Linked DNA regions of Homo sapiens. The protein of the gene in region 1 interacts with the protein of each later gene in a pairwise test. Each region holds a gene or a part of one and is shown in the gene's direction. Other genes may lie near its edges.

What was found. The genes of interacting proteins can lie anywhere in the genome.
Region 2: the proteins of MSR1 (region 1) and FA2H interact in binary tests that used the Homo sapiens proteins (3 or more experiments, as listed by UniProt).

What each region holds. Positions count from the first base shown.
Region 1 is NC_000008.11:16,189,638-16,196,915, reverse strand, and holds the start of MSR1 (macrophage scavenger receptor types I and II isoform type 1), read left to right. Parts: upstream 1-4,264; 5' UTR 4,265-4,318; intron 4,319-7,278. UniProt on the Homo sapiens protein: Membrane glycoproteins implicated in the pathologic deposition of cholesterol in arterial walls during atherogenesis. Two types of receptor subunits exist.
Region 2 is NC_000016.10:74,722,814-74,729,839, reverse strand, and holds part of FA2H (fatty acid 2-hydroxylase), read left to right. Parts: intron 1-2,453; coding exon 2,454-2,596; intron 2,597-3,508; coding exon 3,509-3,615; intron 3,616-7,026. UniProt on the Homo sapiens protein: Catalyzes the hydroxylation of free fatty acids at the C-2 position to produce 2-hydroxy fatty acids, which are building blocks of sphingolipids and glycosphingolipids common in neural tissue and epidermis.

The sequences.
Region 1 (7,278 bases):
TCTCTTTGTTGCCTCTACTGTATTTAGGTTCCCCTACAAACTTCCCTTTCAAAAAAAACCTTGCATCTCTTTCACCTGTCATCCACTGTTATCATACGGGAGCTCTGTTGACGGAGGGGTGAGATGTGGGGGCGGGGTGAGGTGTTCTATAGTCTTCTGATTAAATCTCAGTCTTTTAGTGGGCCCTTGTCCCCGGACTGTGACCTGTGACCTTCATGAGCGTTTCTAAACTTTTTTTTTTTTTTCCTTTTTCTCTGCCAAGTTGAACTGCAGCTGGAAGACTAGAGGGAGCGAGCATTGAATAGTTACCCTTCAGCTGCCTAGCTAAGATAACGCTCTGATAAACTCTTTTCACTGGGGAGTAAGCCTTTGTTACAGGAAATGCTCTACGTATATTTTAAAATCATTAGATTTCCCTTCTCTCTGCCAGGGACATCAGGTGATATTTTTTGGTATATACTGTGAGAACCAAGTTGTATTCCTGGAAGTAAAGCCTGTAAGTGTTTAGGGGGCGCCTTGAAGACTGCAGCCCCCAGGAGGCTCCAGTGCTCACACTGGTCCATACTCAGCCTCTTGCCAAATTCCTGCTTAGGTGTTCCTGCCAGTTTGTGGTTCCACTGGCATCAGCTGCAGGTGATCTGGTGTCTGCTGTGATGCTCTGTAATCTCCTCTCTCTCCCGGTTTCAGGCTGGTAGTTTCCTTGAGACCTCAGTTCTCTGATGGGTCCAAGACGTCATTGATTTTTAGTTTCTCCAGCTTTTTTCGTGGTGTCGAGATATGAGTGATGACTTCCAAGCTCTTTAGATGTTGAAGCTGCAACTAGAAGTCTTCCATGAACTTTCTTTTAAAAATAGACAGTATGGCATAGTGCAGTGTTTCTCAAAAGAAAATAAATATATTGATCTCTATACCTTATTAAGTGTTGATATATTATTTTATTATAATTTTATGTTAAAATAGAGAAACACGAATTTAGACCTAAACACTGTAAGCCTACAGTTCTTAACCAAGTTTTTGAAATATAATGCATATGTTAATTAAATTTTAAAATCTCGCAAAAAAATTAAAATTTTAACTAACACCACCAATTTAAGATTGTGTGGGCAAGCCAAAATATTATTATAGGTTTAATAGAAGGAAGATACTATTCAATTCTGATACTGTCCTTGGTCTGTTTCTGTATTTGACTTCAATAATTCTCATATAGGAAAGTTCTGTTTAATAAGGCTATATAAAATGTTACTGGTACCTTCACAGTTTTCTGCTTATGATTATCAAAGAAAAAGCTCTGCCAATATGCAATTTTTCAATGTCAATTTTATTAAAGAATGTTTTGATAATTCTGTAAATGCTTTATAATCCCACAGCAATATGTGTCCGTTGCAGCATTATTAAAATCTGTATTTATATCACTATTTACTTATTGCTTTGAATTAAGAACATGAAAAATTTTATCTCGAAACTTTATCATATATATATCATACAATAAATAAGTCATAATGTATTAACTATATATTATGACTAACAACCTGCTGTAACTTTAGACATACAAAAATACCTCTTAATGAGTGTAAAATGTTAACTCTTCTTTTGAGTTCAGTATACCTGTACCACAGTGAGTCCTAGGACATTTGAATCAATTCTCTCAAGCCATTTGCCTATTTGATTATGAATCTCTGTTTGGTCACTGGGCATAATCTTACATGGACCTCATTCTAGACACATATATCCATAAGCAACAAAAATAAAGTAATTGGGATCCATCACAATAACTATGAACAAAGTAACTATCCACATGATCTGGAATTTGCCCATATTTGTGGCTTGTTTTCTGTATACTGTTTTTGATGGAGATATTATAGTCCCCTAATAATACATATACCTACTTCAGCTTAAGAAAAAACTATATTTTGCCAAATTTTGTAATCAGACTGGGTTTAAATACCAGCTCTGATGACTCATAACTCTGATCTCGAGAAATTTACTTACCATCTCTAAACATTAATTTCTCAATTAGGGAAGTGATATGACAAAGTTGCTGTGAAGTCAAATGAAGGAATGAATGCAAAATCCCAACCCTTTACATATTACCTCTGTTCTCAATTAATCATTGGCTTGAACTGAACATTTTTAACATGGTTCCCTGCTAAAGGTGTTTTTACATATAGTAAGACCTAATAGATAATATTATGTTACATAATCTATAATTATTATATATAAAACTATATAAAATTATATAGTACCTATTTAGACATATAAAAAGGGAAGTTTTTTAATGAAAAATTAGATTGGCTGAAGAGTGTGGAAATCATCACATAGGGAAGTGGTCAGCACTGTGGATATACACCAAACAGTATTACAGAGACATACTGAAAATAAAGCACACTGACAGAAAGAAACCTCATTAGGATAGAATTTTGGGAGATTGGTGTCTTGTTATTCCCAGAGTCTGACTTTTCTAATCACGTAGCATTGTCAGGGATATCTAAATTTTAAACTTCAGATTTTGTACAAAAAAACCTAAAAGGACTATATTTTAAAATAAGAAGCATGTACAAATAATTGTAAAGGAAAGAGTGTGAGTTTTGTAGTCTCCAGTTCTGTGTCAGTAAGAATTTGATGAGGAATAGCCAATAGCATTTATGCTGGTCCAGGCTGGATCAAATTGTGATCGTACTTCTAGTCTTCAAGCTGCCTGGTTAGAAATTATGCAGCTTACTTTGATGCCTGTCCTACTACTACTATTAGCCTTTTAGTGGTTACCTTAAGAATAACTGAATAATACTGTTACTTTGCATCTCTCAAAGACCGTGCGCTGTTCCCGCATACTTTCTTGCAGACGTATTGTCTTCTGAAGGATGGTGCCCATGGGCACAGCAATTTGGGGCATCTTTTGGTAGGAAGCATGATTTCTCCTGTTTGGGCACAAAAGAGTGACTACGGAATATAAGCTAAACACCTTCTCCCAGAAATATCAGTTGTAAAACTTAGCTCATTAATGTAATGTTGAACGTTTTCATGTGAGTCATACTTGAACTTCTTGAATGTGAGTAAATAACGGAGTTGAATTGTATAAAACCCTGATGGATGGCAGAAGGGAAAGAACATCCCTTTCATCTGATCCATGCCTGAGATTCCTTCCCTCTACTATACTACTGGAAATAAACAACTTGTCTGGTGCTCTAAAAATTAATGCTATTATCATTATAGAGAGAACAGGAGTGAGTGCTTTTAGGTTATTACTTGTTCTTACTAAGGCATCATATTCTTTCTTCACGTGTTTTGTGTTTGAGGCTAGGGATAAAGGTACAGGAAAAAGGATCTAAGAAAAAAACTCGAATCTCTAAACATGGAGTCTTTTTTTTTTTTTTTTTTTTTGAGGTGGAGTCTCACTCTGTTGCCCAGGCTGGAGTGCAGTGGTGCGATCTCTGCTCACTGCAACCTCCGCCTCCTGGGTTCAAGCAATTCTTCAGCCTCAGCCTCCCGAGTAGCTGGGATTACAGGCGCATGCCTGGCCAATTTTTGTATTTTTAGTAGAGACTAGTTTCACCATGTTGGCCAGGCTGTTCTAGAGCTCCTGACCTCAAGTGATCCAGCCACCTCGGCCACCCAAAGTGCTGGGATTACAGGCATGAGCCACCACACCTAGCCAAACATGGAGTCTTTACTCAACATTATAGTAACGTGAAAGAGGAGATCATGAGAATTAATGTATGTTTTAGAAGGCATAGATTACTTATAAAAAAGGAAAGATCAGGCTGGGCACGGTGGCTCGCGCCTGTAATCCCAGCACTTTGGGAGGCCAAGGCGAGCGGACCATGAGGTCAGGGGATCAAGACCATCCTGACCAACATGGCGAAACCCTGTCTCTACTAAAATACAAAAAATTAGCCGGGTGTGATGGCACACGCCTGTAGAACCTGGGAGGCAGAGGTTGCAGTGAGCGGAGATCACACCACTGCACTCCACCCTGGTGAGACAGCGAGACTCCATCTCCAAAAAAAAAGGAAAGCTCAATCTGCTGTAAATTATGTGCTTGTTTCAACAACCCTTGTTTCTTTTCCTTTTCACTTCTCTTTTTTTTTTAAAGCGGCCTAAATGGGGTGAAGAGTGAGTTATCTGACAAATTTAGATTTTGCAAACCTGTGCATTGATGAGAGTGCTATTGAAACACATTAAGAAAGATTTTCAACGCAGGAATGTGTCATTTCCTTTCTTCATGTACCAGATGCTGAAATACTATGAGATAAAGATTTTAGGTTTCAATTGTAAAGAGAGAGAAGTGGATAAATCAGTGCTGCTTTCTTTAGGACGAAAGGTAAAGAAAAAAAAAGGCTTATTTTAATGTTTTTTCCAGAATTGTTTCTATTGATTGTTATGTGTGTACTCTGTGTGTGTGTGTGCATGCATGTGTGTGATATATATTTGTGTGTCTGTGTGTGTATGATGAGATGAATGCTTTATTGTATCAGCAATAATTTGGTTTGGTTTTTTTCGATAATCAAAAAATAGGGATTTCTGCTAAATTTTCCATGAGTGAAAAACATATATGTTCACAAGTACATATGAAATACACTAAATGCTTTGTAGTTTGAACCAGCAATGGGGTTTTTTCATATAATTAAGCATATTTTGTTTAAAATACTGGTTTTATTCAAAGTATAATTTGACATATTTCACCTATTCTCCTTTCATAACTTTTCATGGAACATTTTTGGCTTTAATCTAATGCCTTTTATTATCTTCCCTTGATTATATAGCAAATATTGGCTGGGTATCTACTATATGCACTTCATTGAACTAGATGTGGGGAAAGGATACAAAAAATAAGATATAGTTCTTTTTGTGCTCCGGAATCTTATGATTTAAAACATATCCCCAAATAGGCATAATGTAATTTGAGCACCTTAAGTAGTATGAAAGTACTATAGATAATTACTAGCACCTTAAGTAGTATGAAAATGCTATAGATAATTACTATGAAAATATAGGCGAGGCCAAAATTACTTCTATGTGAAAAAAGTCTATCAAAAATAAATCTTCATGGAGATGCTAGAAATCTGATTAATCTTGAAGACTAAGTAAGATTCACACAGCATATAATGGGAGGTTGGCATTTGCACTGACCAGGTAAAAATACTTATAGAAAAACCATAGAACTGAGATTACAGATGTTTTATGCAGTGATTAGCCGTTTTATGCAGTGGGTAAGAGCTAATCTTCTGGGAGTAGACTGCCTGTGTTCAAATTCCAGCTCCCCTGCTCCCTAGTTGAGTAACTTGACTAGTTACTTACACATTTCAGTTCCCTAACCTGTAAAATGGAGAAAATACTACTTGTACCTCATGAAGATTCCGTGAGAACAAAATAAGAAAAGCTCATATTTAAAAAAAAAGTGATATTTTAAAATAACAGGGATTCATATATTGATGGTTTTCTGTGTACCAGGCAATTTACAAAAATTATTTTTAATTCTCGCAATAATTCTTTAAATTTATATTGTGATCATATTTTACATATCTAAAGAAAGTTCAATTCAAATAAGTTAAAATATTTGCCTAAGATCACACAGCTAAATGATGTCACAGTCAATACTCAAATCTAGATTTCAGATTCAAAAGTTGATGCTCTTTCTTCTTTGCTACCAAGGATGAATATCAGTGACATCAGGCACAATATAAATATTTCCATTTCTTACTAAAATCTGTCTTACAGACGGGTTCCTTAAGCATAAAGCTGTTAGTTTCACAAATAATCTTAATTTAATTTTCATTTTATATACACATTCAACTGCTGTTACAAAAATCAAAGTTATTATTTTATATAATAAGGAGGATCACAAGCTTATTATTTATTCCAAATGTTGAAGATAAAGTTGGCCTTAAGAATATGATGGGCCGGGCACGGTGGCTCACGCCTGTAATCCCAGCACTTTGGGAGGCCAAGGCAGGTGGATTACCTGAGGTCGGGAGTTCAAGACCAGCCTGACCAACATGGAGAAACCCTGTCTCTACTGAAAATACAAAATTAGCCGGGCGTGGTGGTGCATGCTTGTAATCCCAGTTACTCCGGAGTCTGAGGCAGGAGAATCACATGAACCCAGGAGGCGGAGGTTGTGGTGAGCCAAGATCACGCCATTGCACTCCAGCCTGGGCAACAAGAGCGAAACTCCATCTCAAAAACAAAAAGAAAGAAAGAAAAAAGAAAGAATATGATAAAAAAACTAAATAGGGAAAAATCTTAGGAAAACGAATGCATGTCAAGTATGAAAAGACAGATGGTAAATATGTATTAAACATAAAGAGCTGATTCACATGCTTAGGTAAAAGAAACCTGTGGGGATGTATAAGCAGTGAATATGAATAGATAATAACCCAAGAAGAACAATGTATGACAGACAATTACAGTGAAATCTCTCTCTTACATTAATAATAAAAAATAAAAATGAAAACCACTTTTAGGTATTATTTAACTCTTATCAAAATCTAAATGATTCTAAAATAAGCTTTATTATTCAATGGTAGTGAATTTTGCTTGAAACTGCCATATTCACATATAAGTCTGGAATATTTATAAATTTATGTTATCTTTTTAAAGATCACTAAGACAGTAGAGCCCAAGAAGTTCAAAATAGTTTTCCTTTCACTTTTTAGTTTCACATATGATGAATTATCCTAAAGAAACATTTTAAAAGAAGAAAGCTAAATTATGAAAATAATGGCCGGGGCAGTGGCTCACATCTGTAATCCCAGCACTTTGGGAGGCCAAGGAGGGTGGATCACCTGAGGTCAGGAGTTTGAGACCAGCTGGATGAACGCGGTGAAAAATACAAAAATGAGCTGGGCATGGTGGCAAACGCCTATAATCCCGCTACTCGGGAAGCTGAGGCAGGAGAATCACGTGAACCCAGGAGGCAGAGGTTTCAGTCAGCTGAGATCACACCATTACACTCCAGCCTGGGTGACAAAGCAAGACTCAATCTCAAAAAAAAAAAAAAAAAGGAAATATTTATAACATCATTATTTATATCAGTGAAGCATTGCCCCCTGGGAAAAGGAAAAAAAGTTTAAAAGAAAAAATTATATTTTAGAAAAATGGCTGTATTTTTTATTTAGAAAAATGGCTGTATAAATAAGATTTTATATATATATAAAATATATATAAAATAAGATTTTATATATATATAAAATATATATAAAATAAGATTTTATATATATATAAAATATATATAAAATAAGATTTTATATATATATAAAATATATATAAAATAAGATTTTA
Region 2 (7,026 bases), on another chromosome or scaffold:
CTCACTCCGATTGTGTGTGGCAGATTGGGGCCCACCAGCATCACAGATGAGGGCACTGAGGGGCTCCGGGAGGAAAAGATGCACGTCCAGGATCTCACAGCTGGTCAAAGGCACAGCCAGGCTCTAATGGTGTTCCCCTGACTCCAGGTTCATTGTTCTTTCCTGGATTCGGTCCAGATTAACCCAGCACTGGCTTGTCAGAAATCCTCAAGGGCTTCTAGTTGCCTGGAGCTGAAACCTGCAAACTTTTCTGAGCTTGCATCCCTATGAGTGAAACTTTCTGCACACACTCTCCATTATGTGTCCATTTAAATTATTTCTAAAGTATTTGCATGTGTTAATGTACTCTCACAGTCTGTGCATTAGAAAACATTCAAATGCCGTGTAAAGGTGAGATAAAGCCTGCGTAGTGGCACGCTCCTGTAGTCTGAGCTACCCAAGAGGCTGAGGCAGGAGGATCGCTTGAGCCCAGGAGTTCAAGTCCAGCCTGAGCAACACAGCAAGACCCACCTCTTAATAAAACAAATAAGAGGCCGGGTGTGGTGGCTTACGCCCATAATCCCAGCACTTTGGGAGGCCGAGGCGGGCAGATCACGAGGATCGGGAGATTGAGACTATCTTAGCCAACATGGTGAAACCCCTTGTCTACTAAAATACAAAAAATTAGCGGGCGAGGTGGCATGTGCCTGTAATCCCAGCTACTTGGGAGGCTGAGGCAGGGGAATCACTTGAACCCGGGAGGCGGAGGTTGCAGTGAGCTGAGATCGTGCCACTGCACTCCAGCCTGGTGACAGAGCAAGACTCTGTCTCAAAAAAAAAAAAAAAAAAAAAAAAATCAAGACCATCCTGGCCAACATGATGAAACCCCGTCTCTACTAAAAATACAAAAATCAGCTGGGCGTGGTGGTGCGTGCCTGTAGTCCCAGCTACTCAGGAGGCTGAGGCAGGAGAATCACTTGAACCCAGGAGGCGGAGGTTGCAGTGAGCTGAGATCATGCCACTGCACTCCAGCCTGGCGACAGAACGAGACTCTGTCTCAAAAAAAAAAAAAAAAAAAAAGAAAGAGATAAATATATTACAAACACAAATAAATAGAAATAATAGCAATAGAAATAGGGTCGTTAATATTTTCTCCCTGCCTCTGGGGATTAGCCTGTGAGTACCGATGGAGTACACGTACATCCTTGCCTTGGAGACAACAGGCCTGGAGAATAAGCAACTCCTGGATGTGGTACAGGGTGTTCTATCATCTAAGCCTTCAGCAGCTTTTTTCCTGCTGCCCACAGAGCACTGTTAAGGTGCCAGAAAGGCCACAACCATATTCAACTTTACATCTGTGCCCACACTCCCTGTCATCCTTTCCTCTCTCCCCCTTGTCAAATCCCCCATGTTGATGAACTCCAAACCAAAACCCAGATCCTCTGCAAAGCCCTCCTCGCCTACCGTGACCCGGGCATTTGTACCAGCCATTCTGCCTCTGGATCTCAGCCTGCTTTGTATCTCCACTAAACTATCCTGCTTGGCATGCCACATCTCATTGAGCACTTAATGCAGGTACCGTTATTATTTTTTTATTTTTGAAGAGACGGAGTCTCGAACTATTGCCCAGGCTGGTCTCAAACTACTGGCCTCAAGCAGTTATCCTGCCTCAGCCTCCCAAAATGCAGGGTTTACAGGCATGAGCTACTGCAACCAACAATTACTTCCATTTTATAGCTGGGGAAACTGAGGCTCAGAGAGGTTAAGTAATTTTCCAGAAATCACACAGTAAATGGCAAATGGATTTGTACCCAGGCCTGACTTCCGAGTCTAACTGTAAGCACTAAGCTACATGAAACAAGGTTGGCCTCTTTCATTCCTGTTGATTCTTCCCAGCACCTAGCATAGAAATAAATATATATATAAAAAATAAATTGCTGAATAAATGATTGAATGAATTAATTACCCAGGCCAACACCAAGAAGCCTGGGGAAAAGAGCCCACTTCATTCCTGATACAAAATGTATTACCTCCTGTACCTCAAGAGTCCTGAGCAAGACTTTAAACTTCAGATGTGGCTGAATCTGGATGCTCAGATATCATCACTGAGATTCTGTCTCTCTAGCTCTTGGTTTGGCCATCTTCTGTGCTGGTGGCATCTTCAGGCAGGCTCTGCTAGTAAATCCAGGCTCATGCCCTGCCGATTTAGCACCTCCAACAGAAAGAGGGATCATCTGATGGCTCATCACACCAGCTTAGGTCGCAAACCTTTACCGGATCCTATTGCTGTGGCTGGGGGCTGGGATGAGCAGCTTGGTCAGTTCTTGATCACTGAAGCAGGAGGGTGGGTGGCCCCACACAGATCACAGGAGCTGAGGTAGGAGCAGGGGATTGGGATGCTGTAACGAGGAAATGGGAGAACGAATATGGGAAGACGTGAATATCAAACGTCCACTTGGCTTCATCTCTTGCAGGACCTGGTGGACTGGCGAAAGCCTCTCCTGTGGCAGGTGGGCCACTTGGGAGAGAAGTACGATGAGTGGGTTCACCAGCCGGTGACCAGGCCCATCCGCCTCTTCCACTCAGACCTCATTGAGGGCCTCTCTAAGACTGTCTGGTGAGCTCTTCCCTGAGCCTGTGGCAGGCTGTCCCTCTCTTCTGACGGTGCCAATCAGATATGGAAAGGGAGGGGGCAATTGAGTCCCTCCCCAGAGCCCAGGTCTATGCTGTAAAGCTGTCAGGGAGGGAGGAACATGCCATGGGAATAATTCATCCCTATGCATGGTTTTGTCCACTGGGTGGGTCACAACCCAGCATGTAGCCAGAAACTACATTGAATGCCACCTCTGGTCTATTCCAGACTCTTATGAGGAGTTTCTTGCCCACGATGCGCATGGGAACAATTTTGCCTGCAATTAGCTCCTCTGCCACAAGAGGTCAGCATCTGACCAGTTGCATAGAGTCAGTAGCCCTGGGGACACAGTTCTTTTCTGCCAGTAACTCATCTCAGAGACAGGAGGCAGATGGACTCACAGCCTCTCTCCTCTTTTCTCTTCCCCACTCCCTGTACCAGTGTCCCTTTGACCCCAGGTCTCCATAGGCATTCTGCATATGCTTTGGTGTCATCTTGTCCCCAATCCAGTTGAGTTATGTGTCTCTAAGAAAGCTGGACCCTGCCGGGCATGGTGGCTCACGCCTGTAATCCCAACACTTTGGGAGGCCAAGGTGGGTGGATCACCTGAGGTCAGGAGTTCGAGACCAGCCTGACAACATGGTGAAACCCCATCTCTACTAAAAATACAAAATTAGCTGGGTGTGGTGGCACATGCCTGTAATCCCAGCTACTTGGGAGGCTGAGGCAGAAGAGTCACTTGAACCCCAGAGGCAGAGGTTGCAGTGAGCCGAAATCACGCCATTGCACTCCAGCCTGGGCAACAAGAGTGAAACTCCGTCTCAAAAAAAAAAAGAAAGCTGTACTCTGTCAAGCTCCTGTGCATGTATCTCTCTCACCCTGATGGCCTTCCTGCAGGTACAGTGTCCCCATCATCTGGGTGCCCCTGGTGCTGTATCTCAGCTGGTCCTACTACCGAACCTTTGCCCAGGGCAACGTCCGACTCTTCACGTCATTTACAACAGGTAATGCCAGTTTCTTTCCTGACTTGCCCTGAGGATCCTAGAGGGAGGAGACCTCAGTGCTTTCCCTGGCCCAGAGTTTCTGAGAGCACAGAACCCCAAACTACATCACAGACATTTTTGGTGAAGCCTCTCTGTAGAAATAGTCTTCCAAAGAAGAATTTTGTCTGACTCCCATCTACCCCCCAAATGGATACAAAACCCAACAACACATCAGCAGAAACTAAATGGAATCATCGGGTGGCATAGCAATAAAAAAAGAGAGAGAGAGAGATTGAGTGCCTCTCATTGAGTGTCACACCAAAAGACACATGATGTGGGATTCTTTGCTAAGAAACTAAATGAAATCACTTCATCGGGTGACACAGCTGAGAGCTAGACTCGGACTGGCCTATGAACCCAGCACAGATTAGCAGAGAACTTGGGAGAGAAAGATCTGGGAGTGTCCTAGAGTGTGTCCAAGGCAAAGGCTCAGGCAGCAGACCCCCAGACTGGGAGTAATGGCCCACTAACCTCTATGGGACACTTGCCATGTGCGGGGCCACGTGTTCTCCCAGGACCGCCTCATTTACCCCTCCCAGCAGCCCCATAAGAAGGGTCCTGTCATTATCCCCTTTTAGAGCTGAGGAAATGGAGCCTCAGAGATATCAAGGGAGTAGCTGAAAGGCGTGTGGCTAGGATGTGGATACCAGGTGCGCCCCAGCTTCTAGCTGGGGGGCAGAGGATGAAAAGACAGGCTGATATGGGGCAGTGTCTAAAGAGCCTATGAGACTGGGGTTTAGGATGACTGTGGGTTTAAGTATAGCCGCTGGGACAGCCAGCCCCACAAGCATCTTGCCTACCTTGGGCCTCCAGGTACATGCCACCTGCCCTGTGGTCTGTCTGTCCTGGCTCTGAGCTTCCTGAGCTGCCCTCACTCTGCCAGGGGAAGCTCTTTTCCCTGCACTCTGCAAGTCAAGTGCCTGAATGGTTGACATGAGAGGGGCCATGGTCACGGCATCAGGAACTTCATTTATCCACCTGACCCAGGATGAGTCTGGTGAGCGAGCTGCAGGAAGTTCCCCCAAATCCAGCCCAGAGCTCCTCCCGGTCACCGAGGGTTACTGCAGGCATCCCTCGAGCCATGGTTGCCCTGTTCTGCTCACGCTGAATAGCTCAGGCACAGCACGGAGCTTGTTGCTCAGAAGGCCTGCTCGCTGAATCACCCACTGTCCGCCCGGCACTCCCCTAACAATCACAAACAGTGGCAGGGCCGCCAGGGCTGGCAGCCGGAGGGGGAAGGGGATGCTGAAGCTTTGGCCCAGGTCCCTCCGCCGGATTCCTCCAGAGATGCCACTCAGTACCAGCTCCGGCCGGATGGGCAGACAGGGGTGATGCTGGGGTGAGGGGGCGGGCAGAGGCTTGACCTATAGGAGAGGTCTTTCCTGCATGGCAGGGAGGATGATTTGAGGGCTCTATCAGCCACACGGCCTTGGCAGAGAGCTAAAATGTGCCTGTCTTATAAAGGTCCAGTGTAGAGGGTTAGTAAGCCTGTGACCATGATGCCAGTGATGGGGGCATGAGAGATAACGTCTCCACGTGCCTCCCTCAGCCCCCAGCTTGTCATGCAAGGCACAAGCCACAGGCAGAGAAAATAAGAGCCCACAAAGCAAGGCAAGGGGAGACTCGGCGGGATCCTAGTGCAGCTGCTGGACAAAGGACGCACTGGAATCAATACAGAAGAGTCAGGGTGCCAAGAAGCAGTGGAAGCTGAACGCAGACACCAGTTCAAGGCTGACATTCCTAGATGCGCACATGAAAATGCTTTCAAAAGCTGAGGAGACGGGGGAAAGGGGGCGGCGCTGCATACTCAGGATGGCTCCAGAGCAGCTTCTGAGAGCACGTTAGAGCGAGTGGCATCCCTGAGAGGAGGGGAGGCAGGCTTCCAGTGGGGTGGTGTGCGGGGCCCGGCAGAGGCCAGGACCTTAGTCTGCGCCGGAGAGTGCTCCCGTACGTCCAGTCCTTTCCTTACCAACAAGAGAGCTAAGGCCAGGCACGGTGGCTCACGCCTGTAATCCCAGCACTTTGGGAGGCCGAGGTGGGTGGATCACCTGAGGTCAGGAGTTTGAGACCAGCCTGGCCAACATGGTGAAACCCAGTCTCTACTAAAAATATAAAAATTAGCCAGGCATGATGGTGTGTGCCTGTAATCTCAGCTACTTGGAAGGCTGAGGCAGGAGAATCGTTTGAACCCAGGAGGCAGAGGTTGCAGTGAGCCAGGATCATGCCACTGCACTCTAGCCTGGATGACAGAGTGAGATTCCGTCTCAAAAAAAGAAAATATAATATTAATATTATTATATAATACAATGTATATACTCATCATATAATCAGATACTCTGTTACCTCCATCCTAACTACACCCCTCCAAGATGGGTAGGGTGTTTCCCTGAGGAAACTGTAACACCTAGGCGGTGCTGAGCCAGGATTTGAATCCAGGTCTGCAAATCCAATGCCTGTGCTCTCTGCACTTCACCGGAATGACCTTATGGACCCCAGAGGTATCAGGGTTTCTCTGGAAGCAGGGTCTCTCACCAACCAGACCAGCCCAGCTAAGACTCCATGGGAGAGGGGTCACTTGAACCTGACTCCTTTGGTAATATGTGGATGTCAGTAACCACAGCCTCCCAGGAAGGAAACCCAAGAGGAGGTGGGCGGGAAGAAGGAGGAAGACGGTTGGCCTCATTTGGGAGGTGTTCACGGTGGGGACTGTGGACAACCACATGGAGCTGTCCAGTAGGGCGTGGCCACCCAGGGTGGAGTTGGTGTAGAGCTTCGGTCGTCAGCATGTGGGAGAGGAAGGGATTGAGCTGAGAGGCAGAGGGTCCAGGTTTGGACCCTGGGGACAAAGGGCAGAGTTTCCAAGATGGAGCCTGAGCAGGGAGATCCAGGGAAGAGGAGAAAAGCCAAGTGTGGCGGCAGGCAGAAGGGGGAGCTATGGATTCCAACCTTATTGCTCCCGGATCCTTTGAGAATTTGAGAAACTGTGGACACAGTACAGAGAAAAAATGCCCATAGGTGTACAATTTGATATATTAGCAAGTTCACAGACACTCTGCAATCCAACGTAGTACCCTCGGATATTCATAAGCCTCAGGTTAAACGCCTAGGCAGCTGCAGATTGAAGAAGAGAGTAGAGCTAATGTCATATGCCACAGCCAGCTTAGAGGTGGACTAAAAAATATGCTTAGATTTGGCAAGAAAGACATCATGAATAGCCTTTGAAGTTCTGGTGGTTTGGGGCAGAAGACAGATTTTTTTTTTTTTTTTTTTTTTTGAGATGGAGTTTCACTCTTATTGCCCATGCTGGAGTGCAATGGCACGATCTTGGCTCACCACAACCTCTGCCTCTCGGGTTCAAGCGATTCTCCTGCC